Regions from separate parts of the Homo sapiens genome. Here regions 1, 2, 3, 4, 6 and 7 are each linked to region 5. The links come from fine-mapping of genetic effects on gene expression. A gene starts in region 5. Each other region holds a variant in brackets. All regions are shown on one strand. Distances are between the middles of the regions.

What was found.
Region 1: its variant is fine-mapped to the expression of RPRM in whole blood (TOPMed, PIP 0.99).
Region 2: its variant is fine-mapped to the expression of RPRM in whole blood (INTERVAL, PIP above 0.99).
Region 3: its variant is fine-mapped to the expression of RPRM in whole blood (TOPMed, PIP above 0.99).
Region 4: its variant is fine-mapped to the expression of RPRM in whole blood (INTERVAL, PIP above 0.99).
Region 6: its variant is fine-mapped to the expression of RPRM in tibial artery (GTEx, PIP 0.98).
Region 7: its variant is fine-mapped to the expression of RPRM in whole blood (INTERVAL, PIP 0.99).

Annotation. Positions count from the first base shown.
Region 1 is chr2:153,507,115-153,511,401 of GRCh38, forward strand. It overlaps a transcript of GALNT13 not described here. Among named protein-coding and RNA genes, the nearest start is that of RPRM, 30 kb to the left of the region's middle. RefSeq lists an enhancer at 1,696-2,198. The variant C/A (reference allele first, on the strand shown) is at 2,122.
Region 2 is chr2:153,420,628-153,424,914 of GRCh38, forward strand. It overlaps a transcript of GALNT13 not described here and the pseudogene TUBAP13. Among named protein-coding and RNA genes, the nearest start is that of RPRM, 56 kb to the right of the region's middle. The variant A/G (reference allele first, on the strand shown) is at 2,306.
Region 3 is chr2:153,538,300-153,542,586 of GRCh38, forward strand. It overlaps a transcript of GALNT13 not described here. Among named protein-coding and RNA genes, the nearest start is that of RPRM, 62 kb to the left of the region's middle. The variant G/T (reference allele first, on the strand shown) is at 2,473.
Region 4 is chr2:153,407,784-153,412,070 of GRCh38, forward strand. It overlaps a transcript of GALNT13 not described here. Among named protein-coding and RNA genes, the nearest start is that of RPRM, 69 kb to the right of the region's middle. The variant A/G (reference allele first, on the strand shown) is at 2,372.
Region 5 is chr2:153,476,902-153,481,188 of GRCh38, forward strand. It overlaps RPRM (reprimo, TP53 dependent G2 arrest mediator homolog), which reads right to left and starts at 1,861. Exons shown (of 1, transcript NM_019845.3): 1 at 437-1,861. The coding sequence starts at 1,664. The coding sequence ends at 1,335. It also overlaps a transcript of GALNT13 not described here. RefSeq lists enhancers at 28-531, 532-1,035, 1,036-1,539 and a silencer at 1,896-2,095.
Region 6 is chr2:154,359,237-154,363,523 of GRCh38, forward strand. All of the region lies in intron 9 of GALNT13 (polypeptide N-acetylgalactosaminyltransferase 13), which reads left to right. Among named protein-coding and RNA genes, the nearest start is that of GALNT13-AS1, 96 kb to the right of the region's middle. The variant C/G (reference allele first, on the strand shown) is at 2,700.
Region 7 is chr2:153,440,317-153,444,603 of GRCh38, forward strand. It overlaps a transcript of GALNT13 not described here. Among named protein-coding and RNA genes, the nearest start is that of RPRM, 36 kb to the right of the region's middle. The variant C/T (reference allele first, on the strand shown) is at 2,491.

The sequences.
Region 1 (4,287 bases), 30 kb after region 5:
CTTTCTTCTGCTTGTTAGATTCTATTGCTGAGACTTTCCAGTGCATTTTGCATTTCTCTAAGTGTGTTCTTGATTTCCAGAAGTTGTGATTGTTTTTTATTCGTTATTTCACTGAAGAATTTTTATTTCGTATCCTGCATCATGTGTTTTCCTTCTTTCTTTCCTTCTTTTTTATTTTTATTTTTGGAGATGGAGTCTCACTCTGTCGCCAGGCTGGAGTGCAGTGTGCTATCTCAGTTCACTGCAAGCTCTGCTTCCCAAGTTCAAGCAATTCTCTTGCCTCAGCCTCCCAAGTAGCTAGGACTACAGGCCCGTGCCACGATGCACAGCTAAGTTTTGTATTTTTAGTAGAGATGGGATCTCACCATATTGGCCAGGATGGTCTCTATCTCCTGATCTCGTGATCCACTAGCCTCGGCCTCCCAAAGTGCTGGGATTACAGGCTTGAACCACCATGCCCAGGTGATGTTTTTTATTTCTTTAAGTTGAAGTTCACTTTTCTCTGGTGCCTGCTTGATTAGCTTAATAATTGACCTTCTGAATTCTTTTTCTGGCAATTCAGAGATTTCATCTTGGTTTGGATTCATTGCTGGTGAGCTGGTGTGATCTTTGGGGGTGCTAAAGAACCTTGTTTTGTCATATTACCAGAATTGTTATTCTAGTTCCTTCTCATTTGGGTGGACTACGTCAGAGGGAAGATATGGGACTGAAGAGCTGCCGTTTAGATTATTTTGTCCCACATGGTGTTCCCTTGATGTGATGGTCTCCCCATTCCCTTAGGGATGGGGCTTCCAGAGAGCCAAACTGTGGTACTTGTTTTTGCTCTTCTGGGTCTGGCCACCTGGAAGAAGCTACTGGGCTCTGGGTTCGTACTGGGGAGTGTCTGCAAGGGTCCAGTGATGTGATCTGCCTTCAGATCTTTCAGCCATGGACACCAGCACCTGCTCCAGTGGAGGCAGCAGGGGAGTGAAATGGACTCTGTGAGGGTCCTTGGTTGTGTTTTTGCTTAGTGTACTGATTTTGTGTTGGTTGGCCTCCAGCCAGAAGGTGGCACTCTCAAGAGCACATCAGCTCTTATAGGGAGGAAGCAAACATGCCCTAGGGTCGCCTGGTTATGTATTCAGGTTTCTCAGGCAGTGGGCAGGGCCATAGAGCTCCCAAGAGATTATGTCCTTTGTCTTTGGCAACTAGGGCAGATAGAAAAAGATCACCAGGTGGGAGCAGGGATAGACATGTCTGAGCTCAGACTATCCTTGGATGGGGCTTGCTGCAGCTGCTATGGGGGATGGTGGTGTGGTTGGTTCCTAGGCCGGTGGAGTTATGTTCCCACGTGGAGTATGGCTGCCTCTGCTAAGTCATACAGGTCACCAGGGAAGTGGGGGAAAGCAGGCAGTCACAGATCTGACTCTACACCCATGCAGCCCACAGTCCTAAAGGCTGGTCTCACCCCTACTGTACTCCCCCAACAACACTGAGTCTACTTCCAGGCAGCTGGTGACCAGGGCTGAGAACTTGCCCCAACTACCAGCCTCCCCGCTGATGAAGCAAGTTGACTCACGGTTTTTTAGCATCTCAGGGAGCCTGCAGCAGTGATCCAGTTCCTTCAAAGGGTTTATGGATTCTCTCAGCTTTCCTGGTATGTTGCTGCGGTAGTTCTTGGAGCAAAAGCTCATGATGTGAGTCTCCGCAGGCTGCTCTGTCTCCCAAGTGGGAGCTGCATGGTAGTCCTGACTCCTATCTGCCATCTTCCCCCCTATAAATCTCCTAAGAACTTTAACCCTTTTGCCGGCATGTCAAGTTTCTGGGTTCTCTTCCTCTGAGCCGTTAGCCCTATCACCCTGGAGTCCTGCGAAGGTGAAACAGACAAAGAAGTTGTCCTTCCCCAAGAGATTGGCAGGCAGTTTAAGGTTTGGGGAAATTAAACCCTTCCCAGTTTGGGGGATGCATCCGAGGGAAGTGTCTTGTGGTTATAGAAACGTGATTACCCGTCCAGGAAGAGAGGACAGAGGAAGAAAGAAGGAAATAGCGGGCGCTGTGTGTGGGGAGAGGCCAGGCAGCGGGAGCAGGTACTTTTGAGCCTGCGGGGAAACAGGAGCTTCCAGGGTCCCTGAGAGTGCAGGG[C/A]TGCCTCAGTCAGCAGCCATGGCTGGGCAGCTGCAGCTGCGTCAGGGAGCTGGGGCTCCCGCCCTGCCAACTGAAAACGGGGCGGGGCTTCCACCTGTTTCTGGTTCCCACCAGTTCCACGGAGTGCGCAGACCTGGCGGAGCCTCCCCTGCTGCAGCTGGAGTCCCCGCAGCGGCTGCTTCAGACGGGCCACCGCTGCCATCAATAGTGATTCCTTTGCTTATATTTAAGAACTTGAAACTGTTTTAATAAATAATTAGAATATTTAAAAGCACAGACCATAAAGAAAAACCCTAGATGAAATGTTTAAAGAAATGTTGTAAATAAATTAACTGAAACTTCTTGTTAAAAGTGTTATTGTAGATGGTCATTGAATTGCTTCTATATAGATAGGAGGTGTCAAATTCCAGCAATCAACATTTAACTCTCTGTGTATGTGTGTGAACTTGGTTGAGCCAGGCGTAGTGAATAATAGTCACTAATTACAACTACTTTCTTCCTCTCCCAGGGCTAGACCATGCAAAGCTTTGGCCCCTAAGGGACTCAGACCTGACTCTAGCAGAAGGCCTTTTATGTTTGCCTCAGGGGATTATAAAGTTTTTCAAGAAGCCTAGTTTCATTTCATTAATTGGTGATGGAAAAATCTCGTAATTAAAAATTTTTAGATACAGGGCCTAAATTTGTTTTCAGTGAGACTTATTTTTACTACTAAGTATATTTTTATCTCATTTTTACACTGCACTATGTTGTTTGATTGCACTTATTTGAGAAATATTTTGGTAGCAATACCAGGACTTGTCTTAAAGGAGCTGTGACCCTTTAGGGTCTCAGGAAATTTAGGAAAGAAACAGAGTATCTAATTGCAGGCAGAAAATGTTCCAGCCTAAGCATGACTCAAAGAATGCAAATCTCACAATGATTTATTTTAAGCCACAATATTGCAATATCATTTTTAGTCTGTCCCAATTTCATCTCTCCACCCAAATCCGAGAGATGTTCCTAACAAAAGGGACAAGGGTAAACGTTTCTGGGGGTACGTATTGTTTCCAAAAGACTTGTCTGGCCCTTTGATATTTTATTACTACAATAACTCCACATAAGCTACGGCCAGAATCTTGAGCTGGACTCATTTACTCAATACGTGATTACTGAGTGTCTAGGATAAGCCAGGAACCATTCCAGGCTTAGACAGAGACCCTGCCCTTAAGAAGCTTGTATTCTATCTGAGAAGACTGGAAACAAACACGTATATAAAGCCAACACAGGTAACAAGGAGTGTAGGCTAAGGAGGTGCTATTTTATGCAGACACACCAACGTTGCCAGGAATTATCAGCCTGGCGGCACATTAGAATCACCTGGGAGTCATGAACAAAATTGACCAAGCCTTTCAACTCACCTTCAGCGATTCTGCTTTAATTAGTCAGAGATTCTGATTTAATATGTTGAGGCCTGGGCTCTGTTGTAGTTTAAAAACTTGCCAGGTGATTCTTATGTGCAGCCAGAATTGAGAAGCTGTGGTCTAAAATAGGAGGGATAAGGACGTATCAGCAAAAGAGACAGAGACTGTGGTTGGCGAGGTAGGAAGCAGACAGGAGAGCCGTGGTGTAGGTTTCAACTGAAGAAAATGTTTCTAGAAGGAAAGAGTTACCCAGCAAATACAAGCAGAAGGAGAGAGTGGGCCACTCTGTGGTATCTCGCAATGGAGCAGACACTGTTGGACAAGAGCAGATTCACTGGAGAGGTAAGGATGAAAGACTGACCTAGGAGTTACAAGAGGGAGCGAGAGAAGCAGAGAGAAAAAGAATAACTCTGTCCAGACGATTTCCTTTATTTGGGAGCAGAGAAAGGGGTGGAAGGAGGAAGAGGATGTGGAGTTGGAGGAGGAGGATTCTTAAAAAATCTATTCATGCCTTTTGATAGGAGCTATTAAAGTACATTTGTATGGTCCTGGGAATGACTCAGCAAAAAGGAAGAAATTGTTGAGATAGGAGAAAGAAGAAATTTCTAGATGTCCTGGAATGTGGTGGAAGAGTTGGGGTCCACTGCAAAAAAAAAAGGGGCGGGGGTTGGCTATAGATTAGGGATGACCCAAGCAGGTTCCTATAGATTAGGCGTGATTCAAGCAGGTTCCTGTTACCTGTGGATGGGTAACAGGTGAGAAAACC
Region 2 (4,287 bases), 56 kb before region 5:
TTCTGGAAGTATGACATGCTGCAGGGCTGAAAGGAATGGAAAATTAGTGTTCCCCTTCTTTTTCTTCAACAGAATCCACACCAACCTCCTCATAATCTTTTTCAAGGGCAGCCATGTCCTCACAGGCCTCAGAAAATGCTTCTTCTCCCATCTCCTCACCCATTTCCCAGTGAACAAAGGAACAGTTGGCATAACTCAAGTCAGACTTGTGGCCCAGGCAAACCCAGGCCTCAGCAATGGCTATGGTGTTGCTCAGCATGCACGCAGCTCTCTTTATGTTGGCCAGATTTCCAGCAGGTACCACAGTGGGAAGCTGGCAATTAATGCCAACTTTGAGGCTAGTGAAACACCAATCCACAAACTGGATGGTGCATTTGGTCTTGTTAGTGGAATAGCAGTAAGTATTGACATATTTGGGAACCACATTACCACGGTGTAATAGGCAGTAAGCCATGTATTTACCATAGTGAGAGTCACATTTCACCATCTGGTTGCCTGGCTCAAAGTGAGCACTGGTGACCTCTGCTATGCATGGTAGTCTTACCCAGCAGAGATGACAGGGCATATGTGACCAAAGAGAAGAGGATGCAGGAAGAGGGTACCAGGTCGGTCTGGAATTCTGTCAGACTCCATGAAATCTGAGAGAAGCAGTGATGGAGAACACAATCTGGCTAAGAAAGCAGTTAAAGATTAGGGTAGTTTGGGTGCTCAGTATTGGGGTTTCTACAACAGATGCCATAGATGGCCTCATTGTCTACTATGAAGGCACAATCAAAGTGCTGCAAGGTGGTACTGGTGGTGGAATGGAGTTGTAGAGCTCAACCGCAGCTGTGGAAACCTGCAGGGCTAGGTAAATGGAGAACTTCAGTTTAGACTTTGTGGCATAATCAACAGAGAAGTGAACCCAGAACCAGTTTCTCCACCAAAGCTGTGGAAAACCGAGAAGCCCTGAAGACCTGTGCACTGGTGAACCAGCTTGCGAATTTGGTCCAAAGGCCAATGATCTTGCCAATGTCGTGATGCCCCCAGGCATAGTTATGGGCAGCGTCTTCCTTGTCTGTGATGAGCTGCTCAGGGTGGAAGAGCTGGTGGTAGGTGCCAGTGCAAACTTCATCAGTGACTATGGGTTCCAGGTTTATAAACACTGCCCTGGACACAAACTTGCCTGCTCACTGAAGAGGCGTAGAATCAATTATCTCCTTACCCAGTGGTCTTGTCACTTGGCATTGGGCTATCGTGCTGGATGCTTTGTTCCAGGTAGTAGAGCTCCCGGCAGCATTGCCAATCCAGACATCAGCCTCGCCAAGGTGGATGAAGATGCACTCACACGTAGTGGCTACAGGTTAGAAAAGCAAAAGTCAGAAGATACTGGGTCTCTGTTACCATCCCTGACATGTTAAGAGTCAAATAGGCAACACATTGTATTTGGAAATTGTTTTTTAAAAAAAAAGGCATAAATAGCTCATGAAACACTTTAAGAAGAAATGATAATGGAAATTCGAAAATATTTCTATCTGAATGATAATGCAAATGCTGTAAATCAAAATGTGTGGGATTTGGCTAAAACCACAATTAAAAGGCAAAAGCCTTAATTGCGTATATTAGGAAAGAAGAAAAACTAAAAATCAGCACAACTTCCAGTTTACACAGGCAGAAAAAGAATAATGAAGTCATCCAAAGAAAGTAGAAAGAAGGAAAAACGTAAAGATGAGAATAGAAGATTTTTAAATGGAAAATAACCAATAGCTATCCCATCAGGGGCTGGAGGGAAGAGGAAATGGAGACATCAGTTCAAGGGGTACATGGTTTATTTACAAAAGATGAGTAACTTCTAGAGGACTGCTGTACAATTGTACTTAACAATACTGCATTGTCCACTTAAAAATTTGTCATGAGAGTAAATCTTAGGCTAAGTGCTCTTATCACAATAAAAAAATACAGAAACAGTAGAGTAAAAAGTGCTCAAAGTTAATTCTTTTAAATAAACTAATACAATAGACAAATCACTGGCAGATTAATAAGAGAGAGAGGCTTTAATGAAAACTAGACCACACAATCATAAAATAACATTTTGCCAATTATTTTGAAAATATATTTTTTAAGAAAAAAATACACTTTACAGAATAGATTCAAGAATAAATAAAAGTCTGAGTAATCCTATTAAAATAAATGAAATTAAATCAGTAGTCAACAATTTAAGCATTGGTGGAAAACACAACGACAAAAACGACAATAACAGCAAAACCAACAATGACTGAAACAAGAAAAAAACATGTATTTTAAATATATTTACAAGATAATTTCA[A/G]TAAACAAGGGTTTGATAGTATCTATTTTATTCACACTGTTCTAAAGTAAAAGAAAAAGTAAGACAGCTCCTCAACAATTTTATATTTTGGTAAACTATACTTTGATAAAATCTGTCAGGGATGTTAGTGAAAAAATTTCAGATCATTATCTTTTATAAAAATTGATATAAAAATAATAGCTTAAATATTACCAAATATAACAAAGAAAAACATGCACATTTAAATCATGACAAAGAATGATGAATTTTTTTCTTAAGAATGCAAGCATAACAATGTTAAAACGTGATAAATTAACATGTAATTTATCACTAAGAAATTAACAATTTTTAAAACATATGATTATTTCAATACATGCAGGAAAATCATTCAATAAACTCAGGACTCCTTTATAATATAAACTCTTAACAAATAGGAGTAAGGGACCCTATTTAATATGAAAAAAAGTTAGCTACCAAATATTACTTTAACCAAGATACTTTGTAATAAAATGTTAAAAACATGCCTTTAAATCGAGAACAAGGCCTCAATGCCTTCTTCTATTCATCATTGTGTGGAGTTCCTGCTAAATGGAGAAGGTATGCAAAATAAATTTGCAAGGATTAGAAAAATATAAAACTGTCATCATTTGCAAAGATTATGATTATGTATATGAAAGTCCAAGAGAAGTTACAGAGAATGGTTATTTAAAAATTAAATTCATATATACAAACAGCAAACAAAAATATAATTTCAAAATATAGCAATTACAGAAGCAACGAGAGTACTAGAAATAGAAGTAACTTCACAGAGGCAAGACTTTAATGAGAAAGTCATAAACCTTTATTGAAAGTTATAAAAGACCTAATTAAATGTAGAGATACATTACTTACACATAAGACTTACTATAACAAATATATGAGTTCTTCCTCCTATTTATCTATACTTTCAAAAAAAACCCCAAGATTTTATCATTTTTATGAAGCATGATAAACTCATCTTAAAACTTATGTTAGACTATAAAGTGCCTAAAACAGTTGAGACTTCTCAAAAAACAAAAATGATAATGGTCTAGTCATTCAAAATATATTATGAAACTATAGTAAATAAAAATTTAACTGAAAAAAAGTAATAGATAGAAAAATCCATTTACTGAACAGATCGAGCCATGTATATGTGGGTCCTACCCATGTATATGTGGGTTCTACCCACATATACATGGCTTGATCTGTTCAGTAAATGATTCTGGGTCAATTGGCTAAACATACAGAAATAACTAAGATCAAATATATCCTTACTTTATATAAAACACACATTTTTCTAATTGCATTAGAGGCATGAAATGAAAAGCAAAACTAGATGTTTAGGAGAAAAAAAGATAATATTTAAAAAATTTTGCTGTGCCTATATTTCTTAAGCAAATTACCCTGAAAAGGATGAAAAATCAATCTGGATATATAGAAGATATTTGCAGTTCAGAAAACCAAAACTCATTAGTGTATGGAATATGCAAATAATTTCTTCCAAACAAGAAAAAGAGAAGCTAGTTATTGAAAATGTTTAGCAAAAGATAATTGATAGAAGAAAGCATAAGCTGCAAATTAACATTAGAAAGAATGTTATATTCCATTAAGGATATACAAACTAAAACTGCAATAAAGTAACATTTTATATCCATCAGATTGGCAAAAATAATGTCTGATAAATCCAAGTGTTGGGAAACCAGGTCTCCTATTATCTGTGGTAGCATAAGTTGGTAGAGATATTTGAACAGAAATTTGGTAGAGTAGTTTGGAAGAACTTGTCATACATAATAAAACTAGTAGCTGCATTTCCAGAAGTCTTTCATAAACTCCTGCATATGTGCACAAGAAAACATAGAAAGGTGTGCTAATTTCAGCACTGTTTGTAAAAGCAAACACATGGAAATAGCCTAAGAGTTGAAAACAACCTAGGTAAGGGAATGGATAACAAACCATTGTTTATTCACTAGAAAAAATATCAG
Region 3 (4,287 bases), 61 kb after region 5:
AATTTCTTTTCTTTTTTTTTTTAATTCTTTTTTTTTTTTTTTTTACTTTTTTATTTATTTTTATTTTATTTATTTTATTTTATTTTATTTTATTTTATTTTATTATTATACTTTAAGTTTTAGGGTACATGTGCACATTGTGCAGGTTAGTTACATATGTATACATGTGCCATGCTGGTGCGCTGCACCCACTAACTCATCATCTAGCATTAGGTATATCTCCCAATGCTATCCCTCCCCCCTCCCCCCACCCCACAACAGTCCCCAGAGTGTGATATTCCCCTTCCTGTGTCCATGTGATCTCATTGTTCAATTCCCACCTATGAGTGAGAATATGCAGTGTTTGGTTTTTTGTTCTTGCGATAGTTTACTGAGAATGATGATTTCCAATTTCATCCATGTCCCTACAAAGGACATGAACTCATCATTTTTTATGGCTGCATAGTATTCCATGGTGTATATGTGCCACATTTTCTTAATCCAGTCTATCATTGTTGGACATTTGGGTTGGTTCCAAGTCTTTGCTATTGTGAATAATGCCGCAATAAACATACGTGTGCATGTGTCTTTATAGCAGCATGATTTATAGTCCTTTGGGTATATACCCAGTAATGGGATGGCTGGGTCAAATGGTATTTCTAGTTCTAGATCCCTGAGGAATCGCCACACTGACTTCCACAATGGTTGAACTAGTTTACAGTCCCACCAACAGTGTAAAAGTGTTCCTATTTCTCCACATCCTCTCCAGCACCTGTTGTTTCCTGACTTTTTAATGATTGCCATTCTAACTGGTGTGAGATGGTATCTCATTGTGGTTTTGATTTGCATTTCTCTGATGGCCAGTGATGATGAGCATTTTTCCATGTGTTTTTTGGCTGCATAAATATCTTCTTTTGAGAAGTGTCTGTTCATGTCCTTTGCCCAGTTTCTGATGGGGTTGTTTGTTTTTTTCTTGTAAATTTGTTTGAGTTCATTGTAGATTCTGGACATTAGCCCTTTGTCAGATGAGTAGGTTGCGAAAATTTTCTCCCATTCTGTAGGTTGCCTGTTCACTCTGATGGTAGTTTCTTTTGCTGTGCAGAAGCTCTTTAGTTTAATTAGATCCCATTTGTCAACTTTGTCTTTTGTTGCTATTGCTTTTGGTGTTTTAGACATGAAGTCCTTGCCCATGCCTATGTCCTCAATGGTAATGCCTAGGTTTTCTTCTAGGGTGTTTATGGTTTTAGGTCTAACGTTTAAGTCTTTAATCCATCTTGAATTGATTTTTGTATAAAGTGTAAGGAAGGGATCCAGTTTCAGCTTTCTACATATGGCTAGCCAGTTTTCCCAGCACCATTTATTAAATAGGGAATCCTTTCCCCATTGCTTGTTTTTCTCAGGTTTGTCAAAGATCAGATAGTTGTAGATATGCGGCGTTATTTCTGAGGGCTCTGTTCTATTCCATTGATCTGTATCTCTGTTTTGGTACCAGTACCATGCTGTTTTGGTTACTGTAGCCTTGTAGTATAGTTTGAAGTCAGGTAGTGTGATGCCTCCAGCTTTGTTCTTTTGGCTTAGGATTGTCAGGCAGAAGAAATTTCTAAGCAGCAAAGCATTTAAGAGGTGACCGAGCATAAAAGTTTGGAAAATGTGCAGCCTGACAATATGGTAGAAAAGAAAAACCCATTTTCTGGGGAGAAATTCAAGCCAGCTGCAGAAACGTGCACAAGTAATGAGGAGCCAAATGTTAATTGCCAAGACAATGTGGAAAATGTCTCCAGGATATGTCAGGGACCTTTATGGCAGCCTCTCCCATCAGAGGCCTGAAGGCCTACGAGGAATAAATCGGTTCTGTGGGCCTGGTCCAGGGCCCCCCTGCTGTGTGCAGCCTAGAGACTTGGTGTCCTGCATTCTGGCCACTTCAGCCATGTCTAAAAGGGGCCAAGGTACAGCTCAGTCCATGGCTTCAGAGGGTACAAGTCCCAAGCCTTGGCAGCTTCCATATGGTATTGGTCCTGCAGGTGCATAGAAGACAAGAGTTGATGTTTGGAAACCTCTGCCTAGAATTCAGAGGATGTATGGAAACATCTGGATGTCCAGGCAGAAGTTTGCTGCAGGGGTGAAGTCCTCATGGAGAACCTCTACTAGGGCAATGAAGAGGGGAAATGTGGGGTTGGAGCTCCCACACAGAGTCCCCACTGGGGCACTGCCTAGCAGAGCTGTGAGGAGAGGGCCACCATCCTCCAGACCCCAGAGTGGTAAATCCACTGACAGCTTGCACTATGTACCTGGAACAGCCACAGGTACTAAACAGCAGCCAATGAAAGCAGCCCCCGGGCCTGTATCCTACTGAGCCGCAGGGGCAGAACTGCCCAAGTCCATGGGAGCCCACCTCCTGCAACAGTGTGACCTGGATGTGAGACATGGAATCAAAGCAGATTTTGAAGCTTTAAGATTTAATGACTGCCCCGCTGGGTTTCAAACTTGCATGAG[G/T]CCTTTGGTTCTTTTGTTGTGACCAATTTCTCCCATTTGGAATGTGTGTATTTACCCAATATCTGTACCCCCATTGTATCTAGAAAGTAAGTAACTTGCTTTCTATTTTACAGGCTTATAGGCAGAAGGGACTTGCCTTGTCTCAGATGAGACTTTGGACTTGGACTTTTGGCTTAATGTTGGTATGAGCTAAGACTTTGGGGGACTGTTGGAAAGGCATGATTTTGTTTTGAAATGTGAGGACATGAGATTTGAGAGGGGCCAGGGGTGGAATGATATGGTTTGGCTGTGTCCCTGCCCAAATCTTATCTTGAATTGTAGCTCCTATAATCCCCAGGTGTTGTGGGAGGGACCCAGTGGGAGGTGATTAGATCATAGGTGTTGTTCCCCCACCCTGTTATCATGATAGAGAGTGAATTCTCATGAGATCTGATGGTTGTATAAGGGGCTTTTCCCTCCTTTGCTCTGCACTTCTCCTTCCTGCCACCATGTGAAGGAAGGATGTGTTTGCTTCCTCTTCTGCCATGATTGTAAGTTTCCTGAGGCTTCCCTAATCCTGCTGACCTGTGAGTCAATCAAATCTCTTTCCTTTATAAATTACCGAGTCTCAGACAGTTCTTTATAGCAGGGTGAGAATGGACTAATCGACTGACTTTCTCTTGCCCTCCTGTCTCTCATTTCTCTTCTTTCTCAAGGCACCATAGAAACTAGAATCCTTCTTCTCCAGTGTGGGTCATAGAAACCAGAACACCTTTCCCCAAAGCCAGTCATAAAACCTACAATTATTACTCTAACCTTCTCCCCTGCGTTTCTGTGTAAAAACTGGTCATAAATAAATTATCTGATCTACCTTGTTTGATTGTAGGCCATAAGACCTTCATTCCAGAGGGTGTCCTGGCTTAACCTCAGAAAGGAGGGGAATACATGCTTAGAGAAAACAGGAAGAATCTAGCTGGACAGGGCTTGCTTGGTTTCCCCACTCAGTTATTAGCATTAGCTTTTTTGTTCAACGTATTTCTATACAGTTGCCCATAGTTTGTTGAACATAAGCATAAAAATGGACAATTTCCCCTGTATCTTTGGGCCTTCATTCTGAAAGCTCTTGTGTTATATGAAACTATGATCAAATACATTTCTATGCCTTTTCTCCTATCCATCTGCCTCTAGTCAGTAATTTTTAAATGAACCTTCAAAGGGTGAAGGGGATATTTTCTCTTGGCCCTGACAAGTTGCAAACGAATACTAGAGCTGAACAGTAATTAAAGGCCGGGTACAGTGGCTCACCCCTGTAAACCCAGCATTTTGGGAGGCTGAGGCGGGTGGAACACCTGATGTCAGGAGTTCAAGACCAGTCTGGCCAACATGTTGAAACCCCATCTCTACTAAAAATACAAAAAAATTAGCCAGTCGTGGTGGCACAGGTCTGTAATCCCAGCTACTTGGGAGGCTGAGGCAGGAGAATCACTTGAACCCAGGAGGTGGAGGTTGCAGTGAGCTGAGATCATGCCATTGCACTCCAACCTGGGCAATAAGAGCAAAACTCCATCTCAAAAAACAAACAAACAAACAAACAAACACACACACACACAAAAAAAAAACCGGAAGTAGAAGCACATTTTATTCAGGACTATTGCAATAGGAGAAAAGAGATTTAAGTATAGAATGGGTCTCAGTTCTGAATACAGCTTGAGCAACTAGGAATTTATAGCAAGGGGCCAAGTTGGGGATCAGTAGATGGAAAATTATGAAGAGGAAACATCAGGGGTAAGGAATATTTTGATTAAACTGAACTAACAGGATTCTTGCTGAAGACAG
Region 4 (4,287 bases), 69 kb before region 5:
AAAGATGTGTCTTTCTGGACTCAGCATAAACATCATGCTAATAGCAGGAAGATTAAACATTAAGGGGTAGGGGTAGGCTTGTGTGCCACTTTTATCTAAAATTTAAAGTGGGGTCTTGCTGTAGTTACTCATACCACAAGAATGGAAGGGGCACTAGCAGTAGAGCTGGTGTCATAGCATCGAAATGCGTGATTTACAGTAAAAAATAATGAGAATGGTAACCCCCCAGAGTAGTGCAACAAAGCAGCTCTACATCTGAGCGGGAGTGGATAGGAGACTTCAAATTTCCCTTCGCTCCTAATGAGCCCCCAGTGGGTGTTAGAATTAGCTGAGAGAGCAACTATAGAATATAGGTTACCAGAAGAAGGTGACAATGTTACAGAAGCAGAGGAGTGGACCATGAACTGTGGGTTAGAAAGAGACTATGGCTCATCTCAGGGTTCCAGGCCAGGGAGCTGACTTCTGGTTGCCAATAGAGGAAGAGTGGAGGGGTTGCTTTCATACTGAGTAACACCTGTGCAGAAGAGCTGACAAGATGAGATACATCTGCAGAAAATGACCGGCATATGATCAAGCTACACCACCACCAAGTTGAAGGAAATAAAACAAGAAAAAATAAGCAAAACCCACGAAGAAGTATAGAAGGAAGGAAGAGAGTAAGGGAGGGAAGAAGGAATGAAGGAGAAAATAAATAGCAAAAATAGTCCTATAACTTTCAATAAAGACTTTCTTACTTTGGCAATCAAAAGGGACCCTGGCTCACTGGCTTGCTCCCACCACTAAAACTGAAATGATTCTACACGATTGTGCCGATTTACTCGCAGAGCTCAGAGCCCACAGTTGGTGTTTTTTGTTGTTGTTGTTTTTTGTTTTTGTTTTTGTTTTTTTTTTGCTAAGGATGGGCCTTTTGCAAAAAAGATGAAGACAAATGCTAGGGAAACTCATACTGATTTGCTAAACTAATTAGCCTATTGTGATGGTTAATATTGAGTGTTAACTTTATTGGGTTGAAGGATGCAAAGTACTGTTCCTGGGTGTGTCTGTGAGGGTGTTGCCAAAGGAGCTTAACATTTGAGTCAGTGGACTCAGTGAGTCAGAGGCAGATGCAACCTTAATCTGGGTGGACACCATCCCCTTGGCTGCCAGTGCAGCTAGAAACAGCAGGCAGAAGAAGGTGGAGTGAGCAGACTTGCTGAGTCTTCTGGCCTTTATCTTTCTCCTGTGCTGGATGTTTCCTGCCCTCAAACACCAGACTCCAAGTTCTTCGGCTTTTAGGCTCTTGGACTTACACTAGTGGTTTACTAGGGGCCCTTGGGCTTTTGGCCACAGATTGAAGGCTGCATTGTCCATTGCCTGCTTCCCTACTTTTGAGGTGTTGGGACTCGGACTGAACCACTGCTGGCTTCCTTGCTTCTCAGCTTTCAGACAGCCTATCATGGGACGTCACCTTGTGATCATGTGAGTCAATTCTCCTTAATAAACTCCCTTTCATATATATATATATGAATATGTATGTATATATATATATGAATATGTATATATTCATATGTATATGTATATATTCATATGTATATGTATATATTCATATGTGTGTATATATATATATATCTCCTAGTAGTTCTGTCCCTCTAGAGAGCCCTGACTAATACAGATTTTGGTAGCCTGTATCGTAAAATATCTGGAAAAAGCTAACAGTCTGAAAGAAAAAGACTAATAAAGCAACCACAACAGAAGCAAAGAAAACACGAAAAGTAAAAGAGAATTTTTAAAAATTAGTAAATTTAGAGAAATTCAGGAAGACACTGTGTTCATAATCCCAAGAATCAGTGCCATGAAAATTAGGTAATCAGACAGCAAGAAGAATACAGAAAGCTACACACATAATTACTGAAATAAAATGTGAGAAAGGCTAAACTAAGAAATAAAAAGAACTGCGTAGTATTAATGATCAGAAAGAAAAAGTTAAGGAAATTTCCCAGGATATTGATGTAAAAAGAACAAAAATGCTAAAGTATAATTAAGAATAAAAATGGAAAAAGCAAATAATAAACATTTTCTTGAACTGAACACACACACACATTCAGATGTGAAGGTCATACAATGTGCCAAGAAAAATGCTCCAGACCTGGTTATATCTTGGTAAAAGTTGTGAACTTGAAGGAGAAAGAAAAAATATCTTAAGAGTTTCTAGGACAGAGTGAAAGATTATTTACAAAATTCAGAATCAAACCAGTGTCAGCCTTATATACAGATTAGAATACTAGGAAACAAAGTAGGGCAAAGTCTTCAAAGTCCTAAATGAAAATGCTTTGTTGTTGTTGAGACAGGGTGTCACTCTGTCACCTAGGCTGGGGTGCAGTGGCAATATCAC[A/G]ACTCACTGTAGTCTCTACCTCCTGGGCTCAAGTGATCCTCCCACCTCATCCCCCACCTAGTGGCTGGGACTACAGGCACTCACCACACTCAGCTATTTTTTTAGGGGGGGTGGGGTAGGGGGAGAGAAAGGAGTCTCACTATGTTGCCCAGACTTATCTAGAACTCCTGGGCTCAAGTGATCCTCCTGCCTGTGCTTCCCAAAATGCTGAGATTACAGGCATGAGCCACCACACCCAGCTGGAAATGCTTTTGAACCTAGAATTCTATACCATGTAATATTCAAAGTAAGAGTACAAGAGAGAGCTTTCAACAAGCAATGAGCTTTGAAAAATTTTGTTTTCCAAGCCCAAATCACTCATTTAATCATTTCAAACAATCAACAGACAATCATCAGAGAAGGGAGGAAAGAGAAAGACATAGGAAACAAAATATCTAAAGCCTGTAGTTCAATAACTAGATTAACTCATTTTTAGTGTGAAGGTAATTCTCTTGTTAAAAAAGTTTTTCTAAAGATGTAGAGATATAATGTAAAAAATGTAATAATAATCTCAATTAAAATTCTAGATAGCTTGAATAAAAAGAGTGGAGCAGGGAAATAGAGATAAAAATAAGCCATATATAGTGTATTGATTATATAGTGTTAGCACTAGAGATAGTCTGAATTCTAGAGTTTGAAAAATATTTACACACACACACACAAATATATAAATATATATTTAGAGAGAGAGAGAGAGAGAAAGGAGAGAGAGAGGAGAGAGAGTCCAGGCTGGAGTGCAATGTCATGATCACTGCAAACTCTGTCTAATCATCTCAAACCATCCTCTCACCTCCCTGAGTAGTTGGGACTGCAGGCACTCACCAACAGGCCCAGCTAATTTTTGTAGAGATGAAGTTTCGCCATGTTGCCCAGGCTGGTCTCAAACTCCTGAGCTCAAGCCATTTGCCCACTTCAGCCTCCCAAAGTGCTGGTATTACAAGCGTGAGCCACTGTACATGGCATATATGTATATATATATATATATATTTTTTTTTTTTCCTAAACTGAAGAGTAATACATTCAGTCATATAGTAAATTCATTCATTAATTCATCAAGTACTTATTGAATACCTGTTCCATGCCCAGCACTGGATTCAGTATAGGGGATCCGATAGGGAGATGTGGCCCTGCCCACAAAGAGTTTGGAATACATTTCAGTGAATTAGGAATCTGACATGGGAAGCTCAGGGTACTGTGGGACCACACAGGAATGGTACCTGACCCAGGCTTGATGAGAGATAGAAGAGGCAACTAATTTCTTTAGGAAATGACTCAGATAAAATCGGGAGTAGGCGGTGGGGGAAGATGTATGCATGAGAATGTATGCATGACACTGAAAGAGACCATGTGCTTTGAAAGAACTGAAACACTTCAGGTGGGTTGGAGTATAAAGTTCACTGGGGTAGTAGCATGAGATGAAACTGGAGGGGCAAGCAGGTGCTGGATCATGCTGGGCCGTCTGACTGATGCTGGAGCAATAGTAGTAGCCCTTGAAAGCTTCTTATGAAGGAAAGAAGGGTGGTGTGATACGTTTGCATATTAGAACATTAACTCAGGTTCTGCATAAGCATGGTAGAAATGCTTTTGCCTCTCCAAAACCAATAAAATTTTGCTATAAAGAATTCATCCAATTGTGATGGTTAATACTGAGTGTCAACTTGATTGGATTGAAAGATGCAAAGTATTGATCCTTGATGTGTCTGTGAGGGTGTTGCCAAAGGAGATTAACATTTGAGTCAGTGGGCTAGGAAAGGCAGACCTACCCTTAATCTGCTCGGCACCATCTAATCAGCTGCCAGAAAATATAAAGCAGGCAGGAAAAATTGAAAAGGTGAGGCTGGCCTAGCCTCCCAGCCTACATCTTTCTCGTGTGCTGG
Region 5 (4,287 bases):
CATCCCAAAGCCGCCTGGCTGACGTTGGTTAGGGTAGAGACGCCCTCCCTAAAGGCTGTCCAAGCCGTCTCTTCCTTTCATTAGCGGTGTAATCCTGTGTTCCCGCCGGAGCCTGGCACGGAAGTGTAATCTTCCCGCGGGGGCCCTTCTGTCGTCTCGCCTACCTGAGAGCTGAGACTAAATGAAATATAAAATATTCACGATAAGAGGAAACAAAGGATGCTGCCTCCAGGACGGCTACTGTGCCTGAGGCTGGGCTCCTTCTCAGTCATCCCAGGGCCTCTCCGTCTGGCCCCACCCTCGCCCCTCCAGGGGATCCACAAGTTGAATCGCAGCTCTCCAGGGTTAATTGCCCTGGCCGGGAGCCAGACTCCTCACCGCCGCCCCGTTCCCCCCTGCTGGGGAGCGCAGAATGACCACCAGGAGGCCAGGAACAAAACGCTTAAATGTTGCATTTATTAAGGAAATGTTAAATAAGAAAAAAACAAAAAGTCAAAACGGTGTCACGGATGTCAAGAGCACTTTTGTGGCGTAAACCGTGCAGTCACGAGCTACGAGTTCTATTCTGGGTCTTTGTCCCAGGGCCAGCAGGAACGCTAGACGCCTCCCAAAAGACCCAGTGGGAAATGCACTAAAAGAAACAACTCACCCCGTTCAAATTCGCAGGCTCCCCCTCCCCCCACCCCTTCTCCCACAATGACAAAACTGTAACTCCTCAGGCAGGCAAACAGGCCACTGGGGCAGAAAAAGACTTATCAAACATTTGTATTCAAGCAAACAAACACAAAACCTCTTAAAACGGCACGTTACAATCAAAGGTATTTATCGCCCCTCCCCTCCAGGGCAGGGGGGGAGCAGGAGAAGAGTGGGAGCGCACCCGGACACGGATTTGTGAGACCCCATGAGTCTGCTGCGTGGCTTTTAACAGGTCACTCTTCCGGTCACAAGGCGATCAGTGCCGCTGGGTCTCTCCCCTGCCCGCCCTCTCCACCTGCCCCCAGAGCTTGGCCCACCTGCGGGTGGAGAAGGGCCTTCGCACCGTCGGTCTCCCCGCATTCCAAGTAAGTAGCAGCTTCCAAAGTTCTGCGCCCTAATCGCCCTCTTCTTGCCACTTTCTGCTGAGTTCAGAGTCTGGGCGCTCTCCTCCGACTGCCAGGCATGAGGACTTTCAGAGGGCGAGGGAGAAACCGGTCGCTTCTTTCCGAAAGGCCGAAGTCGAGAGAAATAATTGACTCCGACAGGTTTGCTTCGCCCAGTCTCTGATAGTGAGGGGCACAGCCGGGCTAGCAAAGTGGGCAGGCGTGGGAGCGGTTGCCGCGGGGGCAGAGGGCGGGTCAGTAGGGCCCCACGACCACCGCCTCCACCTCCTTAGACGGCCTCCGGTCCTTCACGAGGAAGTTGATCATGCCCTCGGACTTGATGAGCAGATTGCAGCCGAGGAAGAAGATGCCGAAGACCACGGTGAGTGAGAGCACGCACATGACCGCGATCTGCACCACGCGCATTATGTACAGGCTACGCTCGTCCGGGCCTCCCTCCGCGAAGCCGTCGTCGGTCACCACGGACGCCTGGGTGCAGCAGCGCACGGCTCGCTCCAGCGCCTCGCTGCTGTTGGCCAGGAACAGGCCCGCCACGTCCGTCTGGTTGCCTAGGGCCGGATTCATCGCAGGAACGGGCGGGCGCCGCGAGCGGCGCGGGTCCGAGGGGTGGGAAGGCGGCGGCGCTGGAGGAACAGGTGCCGGGCTGAGCGCTCACTCGCAGACTAGCGCGTGCGAGGGCTCCTCGCTCTGCTTTCGAAAGTCCCTGGGCCGTGGGAGTTTCCCAGGAGCCTCTCCGACGCGCGCAGCAGCTAGGCTCTTCTAAAGCCGTCCGCTCCAGCCCTGGTGGTGCTCGTTCCCGGCGCTCGCTCGAGGGGGGGCTGTTGGAACTTGGCGGGGCTGGACCAGCCCGGCCGTGGGAGGTGCGGGCCGCGGCGGCTGCAGCGGCGGGGTGGCTGCGCTGAGCAAACAGCGGCCCCTTCCGGCCGCACCGCCGCGCTGCGCGCTGCTCTTGGGAGGTGGAGGAAGCAAAGGGGCGAACCTGGTCTTGCTTTTTATTGCTTGCTTCTTTTGCAAACTCCAAAGGCCAGGCAGAGGTCACTGTACTCTTCTAGCTTGATGGATGATTAAAGAGTTTGTCGGGGGAGGGTGCGGTCAGCTGAAAGTTTCAGAGGAACTGGGACACACGAGCTCTGCGTGTCCTTTGCCTGCTGCCCCCCTGACCTCTGGGCGAATGGAAAGTGGCGATGAATCGCAGGTGCCAGATGGTGCCGGCTGAGGCCACCCGCCCACTGCCTGTGCTTGACTCCGACTCGCCTGCGTTGGATTTCTAGTGGAGTGGAGGTGATCTGAGAATGTTTCTTACAAAGCAATGAATTTGGAAAGACAGAAAGGCATGGAAGAAGGAAGGAAGAAAGGAAGGAAGGAAAGAAAAAAGGAAGGGAGGGAGAAAGAAGAGCTCTACACCCAGCTTCCTTTACAAAAGCGATTGGGAGACAGAGCAAGGCAGGTTTTACCGTGAGGTTTGAGGCCAAGGAAAGAGGGTTAGAGGAAGGAGGAGTTCTTCTGTGGCCCTTGGGTGGAGGTAGTTGCCGGGAGCAGGGTCACCTCTCTGGTAAAGGAGGTGAACAGAGTGACCACTTGCTTGTAATTTTAATTGCAGATAAGTTTTTGGATGTGCTTCCAGCATTTTGTCCGTTGGCAGTAAATCAGTTGTTGAAGGGAATTGCTCATCAACATCCATCACCTAGAACGCTGGCCAAATACTGGGAGCCCTCCCCATTTTCCATAAGCTGATGTATTTCACCCTTAGTCATTTAAACTAAACACAGATGTTTTTATAGGCCTGATTGACGCTTCAGCCATTGTGATTTTGCTCTAGGTTCCAACGAAATTCTATAAACCTGTCAGATTAAGTTTCTTAACTCTGAAAGAATATTGCATGTTCCCGCTCCCCCTTTTCTGTTTTCTTTCCCCTCCCTCCTTTTCCCCATTACTCCCTGCCTTCCTCCCTCTTTCTTTCAGCTGTAACAGCTGGAAACCAGTAACTTGAGCTTCCAATAGAATACATTTACTTTCTATTAAATGTTCTCACCACAAAGAACTGATAAAAATTTGAGATAATGGGTACGCTAATTACTCTGATTTGATCATTCCACATGTATATGTGTATCAAAATATCACTTTGTACCTCATAAATATGTACAGTTGTCAATTAAAAATAAAATAAAACTGAAAAATAGTAGCTGTCTTGCCATTTTCAACTCTACTCTTAATTTCATTCTGTTTGCTTGGTAAATCCTCTTATTTCTGTTTCTTAAAACATCATTTATTCCATCTTCAGAGTGTTCCTTAAATGTTTTTGCACTGCTTCATGACTATCATAAAATAGAATGAAATGCCTTCTGGTTGAGTTTTCAATTTTTTGATATTTATGGTATATCAGCTGCAATAAGTTTGATTTTTTAAAATAGCTATTATTATTTTGAGGGGGATGTTTAACAGCTGAAAATTCAGGCTTGGGCTTCTACCACAATTCACTGGCTTATTGTTCTAGTTTCCCATAATTTAATTAGAATTGAAAAATACCTCACTCTCGGCAATTTCTTCTTTGAAGAAATTTATTAATAATTGATAAGTAAGAATTTACTTAAATCTCATCATACAATCAGTCTATCTTAGTTAATGTGGGTAGTCCTCAAGAATAATAAAACGTAATGTATACATGGAAAAAATTACAACAAATTTAAGGCAATATAAAGTCATCCTGAGATGAATGGTAGAGAAAAGTAATAGAAATTTAGAAAAATAAAAGGTCAGAGAACAGAGGCCCACCTCCAGGGATCAAGTTGTACAGAACTGTGTGTTCAGTAGAAGTTAGGTGTAAGCAAATGGAGAGCCCCTTCTTTATGTGACAAAAACCAAGAGTTAGTTTATAGTACATTTGTAAGATCCAATATGGAAGGATGCTAAAAGTGTTAGTTGAATCATTATCAGAATTTGAGTATATTTATTGCTAGGAACAGTATTGCTGTTTTCGTCAGGTCAGTGTTAAAATGATCAAACCTTGGAGTCAGGAGAGTTTTTATATTTAATCAAATCTTTGGGTGGGATCTTTTCTCTCAGGTTTAAGGACTAATTAGTCACAAAATTGTTGACAAGGTAATAGGTATTTCCCCCATCAGCTAGTTCAGCTCTCTGGTTTTGTTCAAGACAATCTTGGGATTGTTTCCCTTATTTTCCCTCCACT
Region 6 (4,287 bases), 880 kb after region 5:
TCTTGAAAATAGAGCATCAGCGGGACAAGTCCCAGGTAGCCACTAGGGAAAACTGAGATTCAAACACTAGGAAACCAAATATATACTCCAAGTTCAAATGACAAGAGAAATCTAAAGTGAAGTTTCAGAGCCAAGAGTGAGCAGGTGGGCAGAGACCAGATCAGCTCTGGAGCTGATCATAATCCAGTAGGGAGAATTGCTGCCTGTAGCGATGGTTCCTGGAACTACCATTCACCTACTGGAGGCTTCCTAGAATTGAAAGATCATGAAAATGTGGACAACTACCTTAAGAGCTAAAACGAGGCAAAGGTGAGACTTACGGTCATCTCTTACCTTCCTGGTAAAATTTCTCAGATCATCTGATACAATGTAAGACAATCTGCTTGTGATCCATAGGCCACTCGTTCTTCCTCCAAAATGGCCTTGTACATGTTACTATATTTTATTTGAATGTAAACACAATTACCAAGCAGTAAATAATGATTTTCCTTACCCATTGATTAGTGCATGTTGATACTGAAGATGCATTGATTTGTACAAGCCTAGCTTGAAATGGAGCAGATGGGTATGTAAAGGTTTACTCAAAATCAATGTGAATTAGATTGCTGCTCCTCAGTAAAATGAATTATAAGTTAGAATGGCTATTTTCTTTAACTTAATGTAATAGAATGCTGTCTAAGGCAATCTGTTAAGGTAGACTTACTGAAAATGTAGCCTTTGATCTCAAAAATAAGCATTCCCAAAACAACATGATTTAATGAGCAAAGACAATATTATGTCTAAGAAAATGTAGTTAAGGCATTGTAGCAAATGTCCTGGAAAAATGTTTGACAATAAACTTGTTTTCTTTTAAAAAATAATAATCATGTTCTTTCGAGTTATACAGTATTACACTGACTGCTTTTTTTCCTTGATTGTTTGTAAATATTCACATATACATATGTTACAGTGGTTTAATCACTGTACTGCTCACAGTGCAGCAGTGCTGATGGATAGCTTTTGTTAAAGAAATATCATTAACATTTATATCCTTGTTTACTGCTGTTGCTTACAATGTAAAGAAAACAATAATCCATTTATAGTCCACTGGCTGTATATTCAGGCTTTGTTCATTCCTTTAAAAAGAATAGTCCAACCATTCATGTTCCTGAAATATTAAGGGAATAGGCCATTCTTTGTCCAACTTCTTAAATAGATCTTTGAGTTTCGGAAAAACTATGGGGGAGAGAAATGTGTCAAAGGAAGTACCACAGACTGTGTTTTATCCCAGTATAGGGTGCTGCTTTCGCAGAAAAGCGAAAAACATTCCCAAATAAGAGTATATTTTTGTTTTGCTACTGGAATTATTCCTCAGATGGCTTGTGCCTGTTTTTAGAGTGATACAAATTTGCAACGTGTACCTATGTGTGGATGGATGTCTCATAAGTCTATTGTCATAAATGTGACTATTCAGTATATCTTTATTGAGCACGTATGTTGTACCAAGTAACATACTGTGTACTAGAAATTTAAAGAAATAGAAAGCAGAGCTCCTGCTTTCAAGGAACTCAGTTTGATGTGGCACCATGATAGCTCTCAGGCAATTTAAGTCTATACAAGAATTCAGAGAAGGAAGGATGAGATTAATCCAGCCAAAAAGGGTTGAGGCATTTGACTTGGGATTATAAAGATGAATCATACTTTAGAAGCATGGGGAAGGGGAGTGAAGATGGGGTTGGTTAAAAACCTAGGAAATTTGAAAACAAAAAATGAAAATACAAAACACAATTTGGAAAGATGGGTTATGTAAAACAATTGGAGCATGGAGTGAGTGGTGGGGAAGAAAGTAAAGTGATCTTGCATAAATAGCCTAATTTCTCTACATATTTTTCATATTAAACACCCAAAAGAACAGCTTATTTTTGTCTGATATTTAAGTTATGTTTATAAAGATTTTATTGAGCAGAATGTGATCAACACTGCTGGTATTACAAAGCATAGGGGCATGTTGTAGATTAATTTGTATGATGTATCCATATACGGTTTATATGCATATATAGCATAAACGCTTCCTTCAAGATTGGTATATGTGTAACCTAAATTAGTCTCTAGCTCCAATTCTGATACTGTTTAAGTATGTAACATTGGCTAAGTTATAACATTTCTAAAATGTAACTAGACGGTCTATAATTCTTTCAGCCAAAACCTTTTGGAGTGATCTTATGACTTTGTGATTCAAGGCTGAATATTTGGAATCAGACTGTCCTGGATTGAAATCCTAGCTCTCCTGCTTGCCAGTTGTGTAAACTTTATCATTTTGCTGTAATACAGTGCATTCTCTAATCCTCAAATCCCTCTTATATAAAACTAAAAATAGTGTCTATCTCATAGGATTGCCTTTAGATTTAGTGTAAAGTGCTTAGCCCATTTCTGTCACATAGTGAGTACTTAACAGATGCTGCCTATTACTATTGTGCGATTCCATACTGATTAGTAAAAGAATCATATCCACTTAATTTCTGGGCCTTTGAATGTCAAAAACTAGGCCTGTGTCATTCTAATAAGCATGATTAGGCTTTTTAAATAAACATTATTCACCTCAGTCTTGGGCAGTGATTTCTCATGCTTGAATTTTAGTTTTGGCTTTCCTAAGACTTCTTAGTTTAGCTTCTGGCACTCTTTCCAAGACTTATTTATTTTGGAAAACTAATATGACTCAT[C/G]TCTCAAGATAACTGGCCCTTGACTGCCATACTTGATTTAGTTTGCCCACAGTTCTTGGTAAAAGATCCTGCTACTACTGAGCCCAGTCCCATGGAATCAGCTCTAACTAAGCTATCACTTCAGACATAGAAGAGTAAAGAACAAAGAGTAAAGAAGGCAATGAAGATAAACAACTGAGTGTCCACAGGAACTGGTGGCACCCTATTTTCACAAAAGAATTGGCATTAAGAATTGGAATGGTCCTTGGAAGTTTCTATTCTAACACATATTTTCAGAGTGTAAAAAATGATCACAAATTCTACCCCCACCCCCACCCCACCCCACATCAAGAAGTGAGTCTATCTAGTTTCTCGCTTCTTGAGTCTGGACTAGTCTTATTACTTGCTTTTCTGACATACATGACATAGAATAAAATAGAGTAGGTTTTGATTCTCAGACTAAAGATTTGTATATTTCATCTCTCTCTCTCCCCCACCTCTCCTTTCATCTTTTCCTCTCTCTCTTTCTCTTTTTCTCTCGGAGAATGTTTAGCATATGAGCAAGCCAGTTTAAACTATTGGTGGGTGAGAGACCATGTGTAGAGAGGTCCCATTCATCCCAGTCTTTCTAGTCAAAGTCATCTTAAACTAGCCAACCCCCACCCAACCCAAAAGCTCTTGCCAAATGCAAGAGAAAACTTGATATACAAGAAGAAAAAATAAAGCCCAGCTAAGCCCAGACAAATTGTTGACTTACAGAATTATGAGCTAAAAAAACTGGTCATTGTTTTATGCACTAAGTTTTGCATAACTGCTATACTAAGCAATGCATGAATCACCTCTAAAATACTGCCTACAAGTGGCCAAATAGCTATTGCATTAAGGAAGAAATTTTCTCCCCACATTCATTTTCATGAGTGTGAGGATACTATATGGCTCAATAATTAGCGTAGGTCAACCTTTCAAACCCTTTAAAGTATTAAAGTAATCACGTGAGTTTTCATTATAACAGATTTAAATCACAAATGAAATTGTCAGTTTATTTTTGAGTTACCAAATTCCTTACACAGCTTTTAAAGTTGCATTGTACACTGTTTTGCTTTCTCATTTACTTTAACCCAGAAATACTTTCTAAGCTTAAGTACATTCAAAACTTGTTTTTTTCTCACCTGATTCTACTGATCTCTGGGATTTGTTATTTTCAGAATCCATTGTTTGTTTTGCTAACTTTTTCTCGCACTGTATTACCTTTCTTGGCTTAAAAACCCAATAGGCTTGGTAAGCCAGATGTACGCCTGTCCAACCAGCTCACCCCAGTTTGAATCACTACTCTTTCATCTTCTCTGCCTTCCCAGTATGGCTTAGATATTCTCAAGCCTTGGCTTGCTTCCAGTCTTTTCAGAACAGTATTCTGAATTATGTCTATAGCATTTGTTTTAACTTTTTTTTGTGGAGCGGGGGGAAGCTCAAATGTTCTGATTATTTATTCTGTGGATTTCTGCAGTGGACCAGTGAGGATTCTGCCTGTCATAGTTATCTCCATCAATCCATCAGCTAATTGCACGACCTTTTCTTAAAAATGCAATTTTGTTGCAATCACTGTTCTGCA
Region 7 (4,287 bases), 37 kb before region 5:
ATATGTGCCACATTTTCTTTATCCAGTCTATCATTGGTGGGCATTTGGGTTGGTTTGAAGTCTTTGCTGTTGTGAACAGTGTTGCAATAAACATATGTGTGCATGTGTCTTTATAGTTGAATGATTTATAATCCTTTGAGTATATACCCAGTAATGGGATTGCTGGGTCAAATGGTATTTCTGGTTCTAGATCCTTGAGGAATCACCACACTGTTTTCCACAATGGTTGAACTAATCCACACTCCCACCAACAGTGTAGAAGTGTTCCTATTTCTCCACATCCTCTCCAGCATCTGTTTTTTCCTAACTTTTTAATGATCGCCATTCTATCTGGCATGAGATGGTATCTCATTGTGGTTTTGATTTGCAGTTATCTAATGACCAGTGATGATATGCTTTTTTTCATATGTCTGTTGGCCTCATAAATGTCTTCTTTTGACAAGTGTCTGTTCATATCCTTTGCCCACTTTTTGTTGGTATTGTTTGTTTTTTTTCTTTTGAATTTAAGTTTTTTGTATCTTCTGGATACTAGCCCTTTGTCAGATGTATAGAATGCAAAAAATTTTCCGATTCTGTAGGTTACCTCTTCACTCTGATGATAGTTTCTTTTGCTGTGCAGAAGCTCTTTAGTTTAATTAGATCCCATTTGTCAATATTGGCTTTTGTTGCCATTGCTTTTGGTGTTTTAGTCATGAAGTCTTTGTCCATGGCCATGTCTGGAATGGTATTGCCTAGGTTCTTTTCTAGGGTTTTTATGGTTTTAGGTTTTGCATTGAAGTCTTTAATCTATCTTAAGTTAATTTTTGTATGAGGTGTAAGGAAGGGGTCCGGTTTCAGATTTCTGCATATGGCTGGCCAGTTTTCCCAATGACATTTATTAAATAGGAAATCCTCTCCTCATTGCTTGTTTGTATCAGGTTTGTCAAAAAACAGATGGTTGTATATGTGTGGCATTATTACTGAGACCTCTATTATGTTCCATTGGTCTATATATCTGTTTTGGTACCAGTACCATGCTGTGTTGGTTACTGTAGCCTTGTAGTATAGTTTGAAGTCAGGTAGCCTGATGCCTCCAGCTTTGTTCTTTTTACTTACTATTGTCTTGGCTATACACACTGTTATTTGGCTCCATATGAAATTTAAAGTAGTGTTTTCTAATTCAGTGAGGAAAGTCAATTGTAGCTTGATGGGGATAGCATTGAATCCATAAATTACTTTGGGCAGTATGGCCATTTTCACCATAATGATTCTTCCTATTCATGAGCATGGAATATTTTTCCATTTGTTTGTGTCCTCTCTTATTTCCTTGAGCAATGGTTTGCAGTTCTCCTTGAAGAGGTCCTTCACATCCCTTTAAGTAGTATTCCTAGGTATTTTATTCTCTTTGTAGCAATTGTGAATGGGAGTTCACTCATGACTTGACTCTCTGCTTGTCTATTATTGGTATATAGGAATGCTTGTGATTTTTGCACATTGATTTTGTATCCTGAGACTTTGCTGAAGTTGCTTATCAGCTTAAGTAGATTTGGAGCTGAGACAATGGGGTTTCCTAAATATGCAATCTTGTCATCTGCAGATGGAGACAATTTGACTTCCTCTCTTCCCATTTGAATACCCTTTATTTCTTTCTCTTTCCTGGTTGCCCTGGTCAGAACCTCCAATACTATGTTGAATAGAAGTGGTGAGAGAAGGCATCTTGTCTTGTGCCAGTTTTCAAAGGGAATGCTTCCAGCTTTTGCCCAATCAGTATGATATTGGCTGTGGGTTTGTCATAAATAGCTCTTATTATTTTGAGATACAGTCCATCAATACCTAGTTTATTGAGAGTTCTTAGCATGATGGGGATTTGAATTTTATTGAAGGCCTTTTCTGCATCTATTGAGATAATCATGTGGTTTTTGTCATTGGTTCTGTTTATGTAATGGATTATGTTTATTGATTTGTGTATATTGAGCCAGGCTTGCATCCCAAGGATGAAGCCGACTTGATCATGGTGGATAAGTTTTTGATGTGCTGCTAGATTTGGTTTGCCAGTGTTTTATTGAGGATTTTTGCATCGATGTACATCAGGGATATTTGCCTGAAATTTTCTTTTTTTGTTGTGTCTCTGCCAGTTTTTGGTATCAGGATGATGCTGGCCTCATAAAATGAGTTAGAGAGGAGTCCCTCTTTTTCTATTGTTTAGAATAGTTTCAGAAGGAATGGTACCAGCTTCTTTTTGTACCTCTGGTAGAATTCGGCTGTGAATCTATCTGGTCCTGGGCTTTTCTTGGTTGATAAATTACTGCCTTAATTTCAAACATTCAAGTCTGCTGAAGCTGTGCCTACAGCTGCCCCTTCCCCCAGGTGCTCTGTCCCAGGGAGATGGGAGTTTTACCTATAAGCCCCTGACTGGGGCTACTGTCTTTCTTTCAGAGATGCCCTGCCCAGAGAGGAGGAATCTAGAGCAGCAATCTGACTACAGCGGTTTTGCTGAGCTGCAGAGGGCTC[C/T]TCCCAGTTTGAACTTCCCGAGTGGCTTTGTTTGCACTGTGAGGGGAAAACCGCCTACTCAAGCCTCAGTAATGGTGGACAGCCCTCCCCTTACCAAGCTCGAGTGTCCCTGGTTGACTTCAGACTGCTGTGCTTGCAGCAAGAATTTCAAGCCAGTGGATCTTAGCTTGCTGGGCTCTTTGCGGGGTGGGATCCACTGAGTTAGACCACTTGGCTCCCTGGCTTCAGCCCCCTTTCCAAGGGAGTGAACGGTTTTGTCTCGCTGGAGTTCCAGGCACCACTGGTGTCTGAAAAAAAACTCTTGCATCTAGCTCGGTATCTGTCCAAATGGCTGCCCAGTTTTGTGCTTGAAACCTAGGGCCCTGGTAGCATAGGCACCCAAGGGGATCTCCTGTTTTGCGGATTGCAAACACTGTGGGAAAAGTGGAGTATCTGGGCCGGATTACACAATTTCTCAAGGGACAGTCCCTCACAGCTTCCGTTGGCTAAAGGAGGGAGTTCCCAGATCCCTTGTGCTTCCTGGGTGTGTTGACACTCCACCCTGCTTCAGCTTGCCCTCTGTGGGCTGCACCCAGTGTCTAGCCAGTCCTAATGAGAAGAACCAGGTACCTCAGTTGGAAATGCAGAAATCACTCACCTTTTTCCCATTTTCCCTCACTTTTCTCTATGCTTTGCTCTCCAGCCATCTTGGACTTTCTCTAATTTCATAAATATGTCACTATCCATTCATCTTTAAGACTTGAGTACTATTTTTTATGTGCGGAGCACTCTTCACTGTGTTTTCTATTATTTATCTTCTATCCTTAGGATCTCTGCTTGAAAGTCAATTTCCCAGGCCAGGTGCGGTGGCTCACACCTGTAATCCCAGCACTTTGGGAGGCCAAGGCAGACGGATTGCCTTAGGTCAGGAGTTCCAGACCAGCCTAGCCAACATGGTGAAACCCCATCTCTACTAAAAATATGAAAATTAGCCGGGCGTGATGGTGGGCTCCTGTAATTCCAGCTACTCAGGAGGCTGAGACAGGAGAATTGCTTGAGCCCGAGTGGCAGAGTTTGCAGTGAGCTGAGATCATGCCATTGCACTCCAGCCTGGGTGACAAGAAACTCCATTTCAAAAAAAAAAGGTCAGTTTCTCATAAGGGCCTTCCCATTCTCCCAAGATTATGTTAGATTTCTTGTGCTCTATAATAATCTCTCCTATAATTCTATAATTTATCTTGACAGTGCTTAACTACAGTTAGTAATTTTATCTATCATTTACCTACCTATATGTTTGTCCATCTGTCCATTCATCCATCCATCTACATATCTGTCATCTATCTATCCATTTATTCATCTATCTACCTATCTATCATCTATCATTTATCCATCCATCCACTCACCCACCCGCTGACCTACCTACCTACCTACTTGCCTACCTGCTTACACAACTACCTAGGGTGATAGTTAATGTTTATCTCCCTCTTAGATCATAAACGCCATGGAGTTCTTGTACTTTGTTAGTCACAGAACAAAACATATAGTATGTACTCAAGAAATATTTTTTGAGTGAGTGAATGAATGAATAAATGAATATAATCTGATAAAAATCTCAATCTGTTCAATTGTATTTTGACTATCATGATTGAGGAATGTGTTATTCAAAGATTTACAAAGTGCACTAGCAGAAAAGCATTATCTTTGCTATCCATTTGATGGTATGACTAGGGTGTAAAGAGTATAGGAATAATACTATTTTATATGCATAATGACTGATAATTTTCAAATCAGAGAAAAATGCCCTCCATTTCCAATGAT